Homo sapiens: one gene and its partners. The protein of the gene in region 3 purifies or fractionates together with the protein of the main gene of each other region. This does not show direct contact. Each region holds a gene or a part of one and is shown on either strand. Other genes may lie near its edges. The genes, in order: SMPDL3B, CEP89 and CEP15.

Region 1 (3,734 bases), on a different chromosome or scaffold from region 3:
CTGACCTTTGGCAAGGCCCCGTCCTCCTCCCCACATTGGATGGGCAGCCACAACATTAGAGCTCAGGCATTCTAATGAGGGGGCTTGTTTTAAAGCAAAGGCGGGAGAGGGTATGGGTTAAGTGCTCAGGCTCTGAGCCACTTAGGAGCTGTGTGACCTGGGCTATGTCACTTTTCTAAGCCCATTAACTAGAGCCATATCCTCTCATGCTGCAGGGAAATATAACTACATATGAAAATCTGACCTGTCCTGGAATTTCTTGGAAAATTAAAAAAAAAAAAAAAGAAAAAAGTCTGACCTGGATGGAAAAGGCTTACACACCAAATGAGCTGGAAAACCTTGCTAAGCAATACCAGCAAAGCCCGGGTGCAGTGGTTCATGCCTGTAATCCCAGTACTTTGGGAGGCCAAGGTAAGATGATTCTTTGAGGCCAGGAGTTCAAGACCAGCCTGGGCTACATAGGCGGACCTCATCTCTACACAAAATTTAGAAAATTCGTCGGGTGTGGGGTCATGTACCTGTGGTCCCAGCTACTCAGGAGGCTAAGGTGAGAGGATCGCCTGAGCCCAGGAGGTGGAGGCTGCAGTGAGCCATGATCATGCCACTGCACTGCAGCCTGGGTGACAGAGCAAGACTCTGTCTCCAAAACAAAACAAAACAAAAACAGCAAAAACCTGGGGACTACATGTGGAAGTGAGTATAAGAGTACTAGACCAGGGAAAAAGGAACGCCACTTCAGATCGGGCTGACCTCCTCTGGTAGGTATATTTGCTGGTGATTCTGGATCCAAGGTGTGGCTCAAGCAGCTGGGAGTGGTCCTGCTTGCTGAGGTGATTGACCGAAACCTAGACTCAGTTTCCGACCAAAGGAGGCTGAAGTGGCAAAAAACTTCACAGTGTAATAAAGAGAAAGGAATCCAAAGAAACAGGTGAGATGGAGTAGACTTCTCATGCGAACCCAACACGGCCTGGCACAGTAGTTTCTTTTTTTTTTTTTTTTTTTTGAGACAGAGTTTCGCTCTGTGCCCAAGCTGGAGTGCAATGGTGCAATCTCGGCTCACTGCAACCTCTGCCTCCTGGGTTCAAGTGATTCTCTGGCCTCAGCCTCCCAAGCAGCTGGGATTACAGTCATGCGCCACCACGCCCAGCTAATTTTTTTTTTTTTGTATTTGTATTTTTAGTAGAAATGGGGTTTCGCCATGTTAGCCAGGCTGGTCTCAAACTCCTTGACCTCAGGTGATCCGCCCGCCTCAGCTTCCCAAAGTGCTGGCATTACAGGCGTGAGCCACCGCACCTGGCCAGCACAAGTTGTTTCAATGACTGCTTACTGAAGGAGGGTTGAGCAGATCTGGCCTCTGTTCATCCTGTTTCTCGATAAAACAAGAATGACGCCCAGGATTTCCTCACCCTCTGCTATTGCAATCACTTCCTCCCCCATTTCTTGTGTCACCTAGAGCCACAAGTCAACATCACTGGCCCCAAGAAGCTGTGTCTGGGCCTGGGAGACTGGACTTCTTTTGATCTCAGGGTTGGATAGCCAGGGCCCCACCCAGGCCACAGGACATTCAGTGGACAGCCTGCAGATAAAGGCTGGCCCCTGACCCTCACTCCTTGACTTTCCCTCCCAGATGCTCTTGAGCTTTTCCCCACCTCTCCTGATCTAAACAGTCTCAGGAAAGGATGTGAAACACATTCATACTAAAGTGTAAATGGCTGATTAAGCAAATCATTATCCCTCCCACATGCATTGTTACAGTGTTCTCCGCAGAGCCCTGGGAACATTATCCCACTTTACAGATAAGGAAACTAAGGTCTGGAGGTCAACATGCCTAAGATCACATGGTAAATGATGGGGATCTCTGGGCTCCAATCCCTCCCAGGAAGATGTGATTGTGAAAGGGGTTAAAAACCAGTGCCTTTCTATTTTAGATGGGTCTTTTTGTTGACAGCATATTCCCACATTTTTATTTTTTATCCAAACTGAGCCTTTGTTTATAATGGGGAAAATTTAACCTTTCCACACATATTGTGATCACTAATATATTCCTGCCAGGCATGGTGGCACAGTGGCTCACACCTGTAATCTCAGCACTTTGGGAGGTTAAGGCAGGAAGATTGCTTGAGGCCAGGAGTTCAAGACTAGCAGGGGCAACAAAGCAAGACTTCGTCTCTACAGAAAATAAAATTCAGCCAGGCACAGTGGCTCACGCCTGTAATCCCAGCTACTCAGGAGGCTGAGGCAGGAGAATTGCTTGAACCCAGGAGGCGGAGGTTGCAGTGAGCCGAGATTGTGCCACTGCACTCCAGCCTGGCGACAGAGCGAGACTCCATCTCAAAAAAAAACACAACAACAAAAAACAAAAAAATAGCCAGGCATGGTGGTACACTCTTTTAATCCCAGCTACAGCTACTTGGGAAGCTGAGGCAGGAGAATCGCTTGAACCCAGGAGGCGGAGGTTGCAGTGAGCCGAGATTGCACCACTGCACTCCTGCCTGTGCGACACAGCAAGACTGTCTCAAAAAAATTAAAAAGAATACAGTGACAAAACCCCAAGCCAGAGTAAAGGAATGAACTGCCTCATACCAGTTAGTTGGTGGGCAGAGTTGCTGGGCATCCCAAGTCCCTGAGCTGAGACCGTGAGTGGCTCTCACCTGCTTCCAAGCCCGGAGCCAGGCTGGCCAGGATGGATGTTGGGGGAGGCCCTTTGCCTTTCTCTTGGGCACATGGTCCTTGCGCTTCCTCTGCAGACAGAGAAAGAGGCTATTCCCCTGCCTCAAGCTGGCTCTTTCTCAGTTAACTACAAACACTGAGCAGTTTGGCCCCTTTGACGTCAGCCCTCAAAGTATTCAGGAACATTTCTCCACTCCAGAAACTCCTCATCTCACCTGTCAGTTGTCGTTTTCCAGCCAGTGTGTAGAACTGAAACTACTTTCCAGCCTCTCTGGCACATACTGCTGAAGGGTGTGTGTACATGCATGTGTGTTTATGTGTGTGTGCGTGTGTGTCTGTGTGTGTGCATGTGTGTGTGCTGACTCCAGGAGAGGCCAGGCTAGTGGACAGAATGGTGGAGAGAGCCAGAGGTCCAGGCGGGCAGCTCCACCTCCTTGGGGTCCAGGTGGGCAGCTCCAACTCCTTGGGGTCCAGCCTCCTCATTGTGGGAGTGCAGATCCCAGCGACCTTGTCAGCTCAGCCCAACCCACCACCCTCAGCCAAGCTGCTTCTCCTCACAGGGCCTCTTCCCTGACTACGCCATGGCCTCGCCCAATCTTCCCACATCATCATGCGGCTGCCTCCTCCTCATTCAGGCCTCTGCCCCAAGGTCACCTCCTCAGAAGACTCCCCTGACCACCTCATCTCAAGTGCCACCTCTCCTGCCTGTCTGGTCGCTATTTCTTCCCCAGCTTCCTTTTTCTCAGAGCACTATCACATGTGAACTTACCTTGTTGGCTTGCTTATTGTCCATCTTCCCTGTTTACAATGTCAGTTCCATGAGAGCACCAAGCCCGTCTTGTTTACCTCTATGTCCTCAGTGCCTAGAAGGGTGCCTGGGACGTGGAAGACGTGCAAATGCACATTCGATGAATGAACAAGGCTGTGGGGAGGCCAGTTAGAATTGTAGGCACTCAGACAGTGTTGGATAGGTGCCCAGACTTTCATACACTGGTCTTATTTCATCCTGGCAGCCAGTCTGTGAGATAGGGATTCTTATGCCCACTGCATAGATAAGCAAACTA
Region 2 (2,768 bases), on a different chromosome or scaffold from region 3:
TTGCAGTGAGCCGAGATCGCACCACTGCACTCCAGCCTGGGTGACAGAGCGAGACTGTCTCAACTAAAAAAAAAAAAAAAGCCAAGCCTGGGAGGCTGGAAGGGCAGCAGGTTTCCTGCCCAGCTTTGGGGCCATGGACTCACACCTTGAGAAAACCAAGAGAGGCCTAACAAGCTGTACCCATCCCCTCTCCCACTCCTGGCTGCAGCCACTCCTTACCTGTGGACCCCTGCCCAGCTGTGACCCAGCAGAGAGGTGCCACAAACCTGGGCACACTGAGCCCTCCCCATGCCGCCCAGCCAAGTTTTGAGTGGATGATGTTTCCAGTCTTACTCAAGAATTCAGATGTCAGCCCAGCCCCATCCCAAGAGGCTCAGCCTCCTGCTGTGGGATCTGTATCCGGCTCAAGCCCTCCCTGCTGGAAGAGCTGCTTGGGCCCAGGGAGGGCTCTCCTGAGCCACCCACACTGGGGACTGTGCCTTTCATTCCCGCCAACGATACAGGTAGGGGAGGGGGTGAGGAGCCAGTGACAGCTGCGCTCGAGGCTAAATGCTAGGCCACCCTCGGCCTTAAATCTCTGTCCTCTCAACACAGTTATTGACAACACCACCAAGCATTGATGAGGATGCGGAGCAACCGGAACTTGCGCGGAGGTTGGTGGTGGGAAAGTAAAATGACACAAACACTCAGGAAGCAGGCCTGGGTGTTATTTCTTTTTTAATTGTCTATATAACAAAATCCACTGTTGTCACTGTTTTCCAGCATACAGTTCAGTGGCGTTAAGGGCATTCAGGACAGCTCTCATGACAGACTCACACCCACATGCACACCTGGTGCCCCAGCCTGCTTTGTCCACTGTCTCCATTTCCCCAGGGCTGCTTTTACTTTTTATTGTATTATTTTTGAGGCAGGGTCTCACCTGGTTGCCCAGGCTGGAGTGCAGTGGCATGATCATAGCTCACTGCAGCCTCAACCTCCCAGGCTCAAGTGATCCTCCCACCTCAGCCTCCTGAGTAGCTGAAACCATAGGCGCCATCACCATGCCCAGGGCTGCTTTTAAATAATGGCAAAGCCAGCAAGGCTCACTCGCGTGCCTGGGTCATGTTCTACAGCTGCTTGACCAGGAATCTTCCAATGCCGTATGAAACCTCACCAGGACCAAGAAAGAGAAGGGTTCCCTGCTCAGACCAGACACTTGCAGCATGGGGAAGGAGGAGCCCCTCCCAGCAGACCCAGTTCTCCTCTGTGCAGTCCGGCCTCATTTCCCACCCAAGCTCTGACCAAACCCCCTCCTGCTGCTCTGAGTGCCTGCTGTGCTCCTGGGGGCCCTCTCCACCCTTCTGTAGCTCCTGAAACCTTGTCCACTCTGCAAGGGCCGGGGCGTGCCAGTTCCTCCCAGAAGCACCCCAATGTTTCTGTCCTTTCCTGGAATCTCACAAGCACCCAGGTGCCTCTCTGCCTTGCCTGCCCCGCCCTCCTTGGCATCCTGGACTCGTGGCTTCTCTGCCCATTTCCTATGGCACCCAGCAGGAGGCTGGGCAGAAGATAGTGTCTGTGGGACACCTGCCCTTGCCCTGGTCACAGTGCCATCCAGGAGTCCCCATACTTGCAAAGTATGTTTGCACTGTGTGAAAAACTTAAAGCAGAAACATAAGAACAAAAGTGGACACTTCTCAAAAGAATAAAATGTTTGCATAAAAGGCAGAAAGACAGGGATGTCAACAGTGGTTCTCTAGGTCACGATGGCGGGAGCAGCATTCCTGCTGACAAGCACTCCTGCCCCGCGCAGCCACGCTGGGCTGCCGCCGCCTGTCAGCCTGTCTACAGGAGGCTGCAGAGCGGCCGTAAATGCCTTTGAAATAGCATCACAGTTATTTGTTAGGTCATCTCCTAGGGAGATGATACACAGTTTTCAATCCCAGTGAGTCTTTCTACCGCTTGTAAAATAAAATTAAATTACAATGATTCAACTGTTGAACAAGCTTATAGAGTCATAAAAGAACTATGATTTTCTATCTCACCCTTCCGTCTGGCAATCAAAGATCACACGTAGAACTTCTACACATGACCAAGGACCAGTACTGGGGCCTCCTTCCCACCTGAAACAAGGCAGGACTTCACTGCGAGGGGCTCTGAAAAGGAGATGCTGCAGGGTGCCACCCCTGAGTCCCACAGTTAGGGTCCTTTGTAGCCCAATGTCCCCAAGTCCCTCCAGCATGCCTGGGACTGAATGGTCCTGAGCGGCTGGGGTAATTTTCCTGAGGAGGTGGCACGTCATCTAACACACATGGGACAGAACCATGGCCCCCTGGTATGCTTCTTGGTGGTGGCAGTGGGGCAGGGACTCTATCTTAGCTCAAAGCCAGGGCTCTCATTACATGGGTGGGGAGCTGTGTGGCTCCAGAATCAATTACCTTCCCAGACCAGGCGCGGTGGCTCATACCTATAATCCCAACACTTTGGGAGGCCTAGGCAGGAGGATTGCTTGAAGCTAGACGTTTGAGACCAGCTTGGGCAACATAGCAAGACCCCATCTCTACCAAAAAAAAAATTTTTTTTTTTTGAGACAAAGTCTCGCTCTTGTTGCCCAGGCTGCCCAGGCTGGGGTATAATGGCGTGATCTTGGTTCACTGCAACCTCCGCCTTCCAGGTTCAAGCAATTCTCCTGCCTCAGCCTCCCAAGTAGCTGGGATTACAGGCACCCACCACCATGCCCAGCTAATTTTTGTATTTTTAGTAGAGATGGGGTTTCACCATGTTGGCCAGGC
Region 3 (3,500 bases):
TTCACTTTCATTCACACTGCTCCCTACGCATGAGAAAGACCAGATGTCTGGTTTCCAGAGTATTAAGCTTTTTCCTTAATACTTCTTAATTTTTTTTCAAGTTTAAAGAAAAACTGTAGCTTCTTCTGATCTTTAGCATTCTACAGTTTAATAATTTCATATACCAGAAGTGTTTCTGCAGAAAATGAGCTTTGAATATTTATGCATTTGCAACAGTCCACAAACGGCTTTGGAAAAAATTATTTGACTTTCATTTTGAAAACTCCATTTTTCTAAAAAAAAACCATAAATTCATAGTTTTCATGGAGAAGAGTGGTGGAGTACAATGGAGCATATGGAAAGAACACTGAATTTGGAGAGAAAGGTATGAATAGATGACATTTCCTTTTCCTTGTCTGATTCCTACTAATTGTAGAAAAAATATACATTATATATGGTATTCCTCCCTTCTTAACAGAAAACAATGTTTGGAAATTCCTGTGTAAAGCTAATTTGCCATGAGGAACATAAAGCCCATTAATGGGATATCCAGGTCCCTATGGGAATTTTTTTTTTTTTTTTAAACAGACACCATGTGGTGCAATCTGTTACAGTCTACAAGGTGGGGGTGGGGAGGGGAGCTCTGCAGGGGCCAGGAATAAAGTCATCTCTGGGAGTTTTTGAGGTATTAACAAAAATGGGAAAAACACTACAGCAGGAGCCTTGGAAATGCCTTCCCTTCTGCCCTCGATCGTAACCCAGGGTGTATTACGTTTATGCTTTTCAAAAATTATTTAGCAAGTTCTCAGTTTTAGGGAGAAAAAAACCTGAACCTTTTCTGAGATGGTTAGATTGCCATTTGTTTTGTATTTTTATCTAACCCACTGGTGATTTAATTTACAGATCTCAAAGGAAGTGCATGCTCAAATATTTGAGGATGTTAATGTATCAACCACTGTGTAATTTTGGAATTTGCCTACTCGCTTGACACAATATTTTACCATCTAACAAATGTTTAGCCTTTTTTTCACTTGACTAAAGAGAAGTAAGTTTCACATTGCTTCATTCACCTTCTTATGTGCATATGCTGGGAAAGATTGGATGTTAAAAAAAAAAACAACTTCCTCATGTTCCTTTCTACTACATCTAAATCTGTTTACCAATTCAAAGCTGCTAAAAAAACCTGCATTCTCCTGCTAAATCAACTGGATGGCTAGAAACCAAACTGTAATGTAACAGAAAAAAATTATCAATTTATTTTCATGACAGAACATTCTTGAGAAGGTATAAAATTGTTCTGGTTGCTATGCCAGTTTTCTTTTTTCTTCCTTCCTCTGTCTTCTTTTTTCAAAGGCTTTTAGCTTTTAAGCTGATACTTTTTATAGTTATATAACAGTTCTAATATTTTGTGACATTTTGTATTGTGACACTATAGATGAAATTGTCATCGGACTGACACCCTGTGCTGTTTATTCCTTAATTACAACTGTTAACACTGTAGAGAAGTGTGCTAATCTGCCAGCACATATTATGAAAACAACATTATTGTTACCCACACCAACACCCACTCAACAGGATATTTCCAAGATGGTAGTTTAAAGGAACTTATCGGCACAACGGACGTTTCAATATAGTTGTTGTTGTTGCTGTGTATTTAGCTTTTCCTATTGTCTTCTTTTAAAAACATAAACCAGTTTGAAATTTAAAACATTTCATTGTAATATAGCATAGGTACCCTTTACTAGCAGAGGCTGCCTCTATAGCTGGAAAGTTATATATACATATTTTTTTTTTCTTTTTTTTTTTTAAGTGCTCAAGCAGTGGTGGACTGAGGAATCTCAAAGCTGTTTAGGGTTGTGACCCAACGCTTTCTGACTGACAGTTTTTTCAGGAATAATGAAATTAGAAGGAAGCGGGAAGGGGAAGTTTAAAGATGAAAAGACAAGAGTGGGGTTATTTGCATTCACAAGGTTGGCAATCTTTAAATAACCAAGTCAAAATCCAATAACCTTTCCCAGCTCTAAAAGGCATCCTTTTTCAAAACCAAGTCTGAGTCTTCCTGAAACTGGCTACTTATTGACTGCTTTATAGTTCAGTTCTTTCTGTCTCCAGAACTTGCAGAGCTTTGGCTATCTGTGAGGGACAAAATCCTATGAATTTATTTTCTCATAAGTTATTTTGCTAGAGCAGTTTAGGTGTCATTGTCTTTTAATTTGTTAAAAGAAACAATAATGGTTTAAAAAAAAAAAAGAACCATGTTGATCCTATACCTTGTCCCTAAAAAGTAAGGATTCTAAAAAACTTAACTTAAAACCAGAACCAAGATACCTGCTTAGAGGAGAATGATTGTAAATTTTTTTTTTTTTAAAGCAACACACTCACAACACTGACAATAATTTAATTAATAAAGAGTCCACCTTTTAATATTCGTGTTTAACACATCTATGGGTTTGGTAGAAAGCAAATTCATGACCTTGAAATAGTAGTAGGTGATAACATGTGACTTGCCAGTAAATTCTCATATCTTCACTGTCACTTAGGAGATAATCGAAGAATATGAACATATTTAATTCCTAAAGTTCCTGCAATAACCTACATACACCTTAACATTCAGCTTTATTAAACAGGCTTTTTGAAATAGCATGTGAAGAAGTTATCGCTGTGCCTCATTTTGAATGGTATTTTCTGCTTCATTTTGATTTTCAACAGCAAAAGGATATGGTGCTCTTCCTAAAAGAAACTGTTCCCATTTGGGAATATATTCTTCTACTGATGCCCAGTAACGAGTCTGGAAAAAAAAATCCAAAAGTAAAAAAGCATATCAAGCAATTGAACTTGGCTCTTCATAATAGTCTAAATGTTTATTCACTTAAGAGTGTGTATGCGTGTATACACACACACACACACACACATATATGTAGAATGCATTTCCTCTACAGAATATTTTATGTTAATTTTAGAAAAAAATCTGGCTACTTACTAGTGTTAATTTTCAAATTTCTCAGTAAAACCAGAGCCTGGCAGAATTACAGGTTTTAGAATTTTATTGTGATTTTACACGCCCTCTTGTGGCCAACTTCATGATTATTGCTAATAGTATCATTTATGGTGATATAATCATTAAATGTTTTTGTTTAATATTCCAAATCCCATACCAAATGATTACCCCATACTGAAATTATTACAATGAAATTATCAAACATAAATCATGCTTCAGGATTAACATCAAAAGATTTGACCTGGGATGAGATCAGGAACTGAAATACAACTAGTGTGTTATAGTACAGGAATTAGAGATATTGGACCCTTAATTGTGTAGGAAATATATATCCACTATAATTTTTCCCCATTTTTGTGATGACAAAATGTCAATATAATTTAACCATTTTTAATACAAATAGCTTGGAAGTTGAGATGCTGTATTATTGGTCTGACTGTAGAAGTCTATAGGCTTTAGAAGCTCATGAAACATTGCTGTGTTGTGTCTAGCTTTGGTTTCTTGGGTGACTGCCCTAGGGAGG

The links.
Region 1: the proteins of CEP15 (region 3) and SMPDL3B purify together in Homo sapiens (affinity purification with mass spectrometry; one large-scale study listed by BioGRID and IntAct). This does not show direct contact.
Region 2: the proteins of CEP15 (region 3) and CEP89 purify together in Homo sapiens (affinity purification with mass spectrometry; one large-scale study listed by BioGRID and IntAct). This does not show direct contact.

The regions. Positions count from the first base shown.
Region 1 is NC_000001.11:27,941,282-27,945,015, reverse strand, and holds part of SMPDL3B (acid sphingomyelinase-like phosphodiesterase 3b isoform 1 precursor), read right to left. Parts: intron 2,742-3,734; coding exon of another isoform or gene 2,652-2,741; intron 1-2,651. UniProt on the Homo sapiens protein: Lipid-modulating phosphodiesterase. Active on the surface of macrophages and dendritic cells and strongly influences macrophage lipid composition and membrane fluidity. Acts as a negative regulator of Toll-like receptor signaling.
Region 2 is NC_000019.10:32,875,225-32,877,992, forward strand, and holds the end of CEP89 (centrosomal protein of 89 kDa), read right to left. Parts: 3' UTR 701-2,768; downstream 1-700. UniProt on the Homo sapiens protein: Required for ciliogenesis. Also plays a role in mitochondrial metabolism where it may modulate complex IV activity.
Region 3 is NC_000003.12:62,332,522-62,336,021, reverse strand, and holds part of CEP15 (centrosomal protein 15), read right to left. Parts: intron 2,768-3,500; coding exon 2,633-2,767; 3' UTR 1-2,632. UniProt on the Homo sapiens protein: May play a role in ciliary assembly.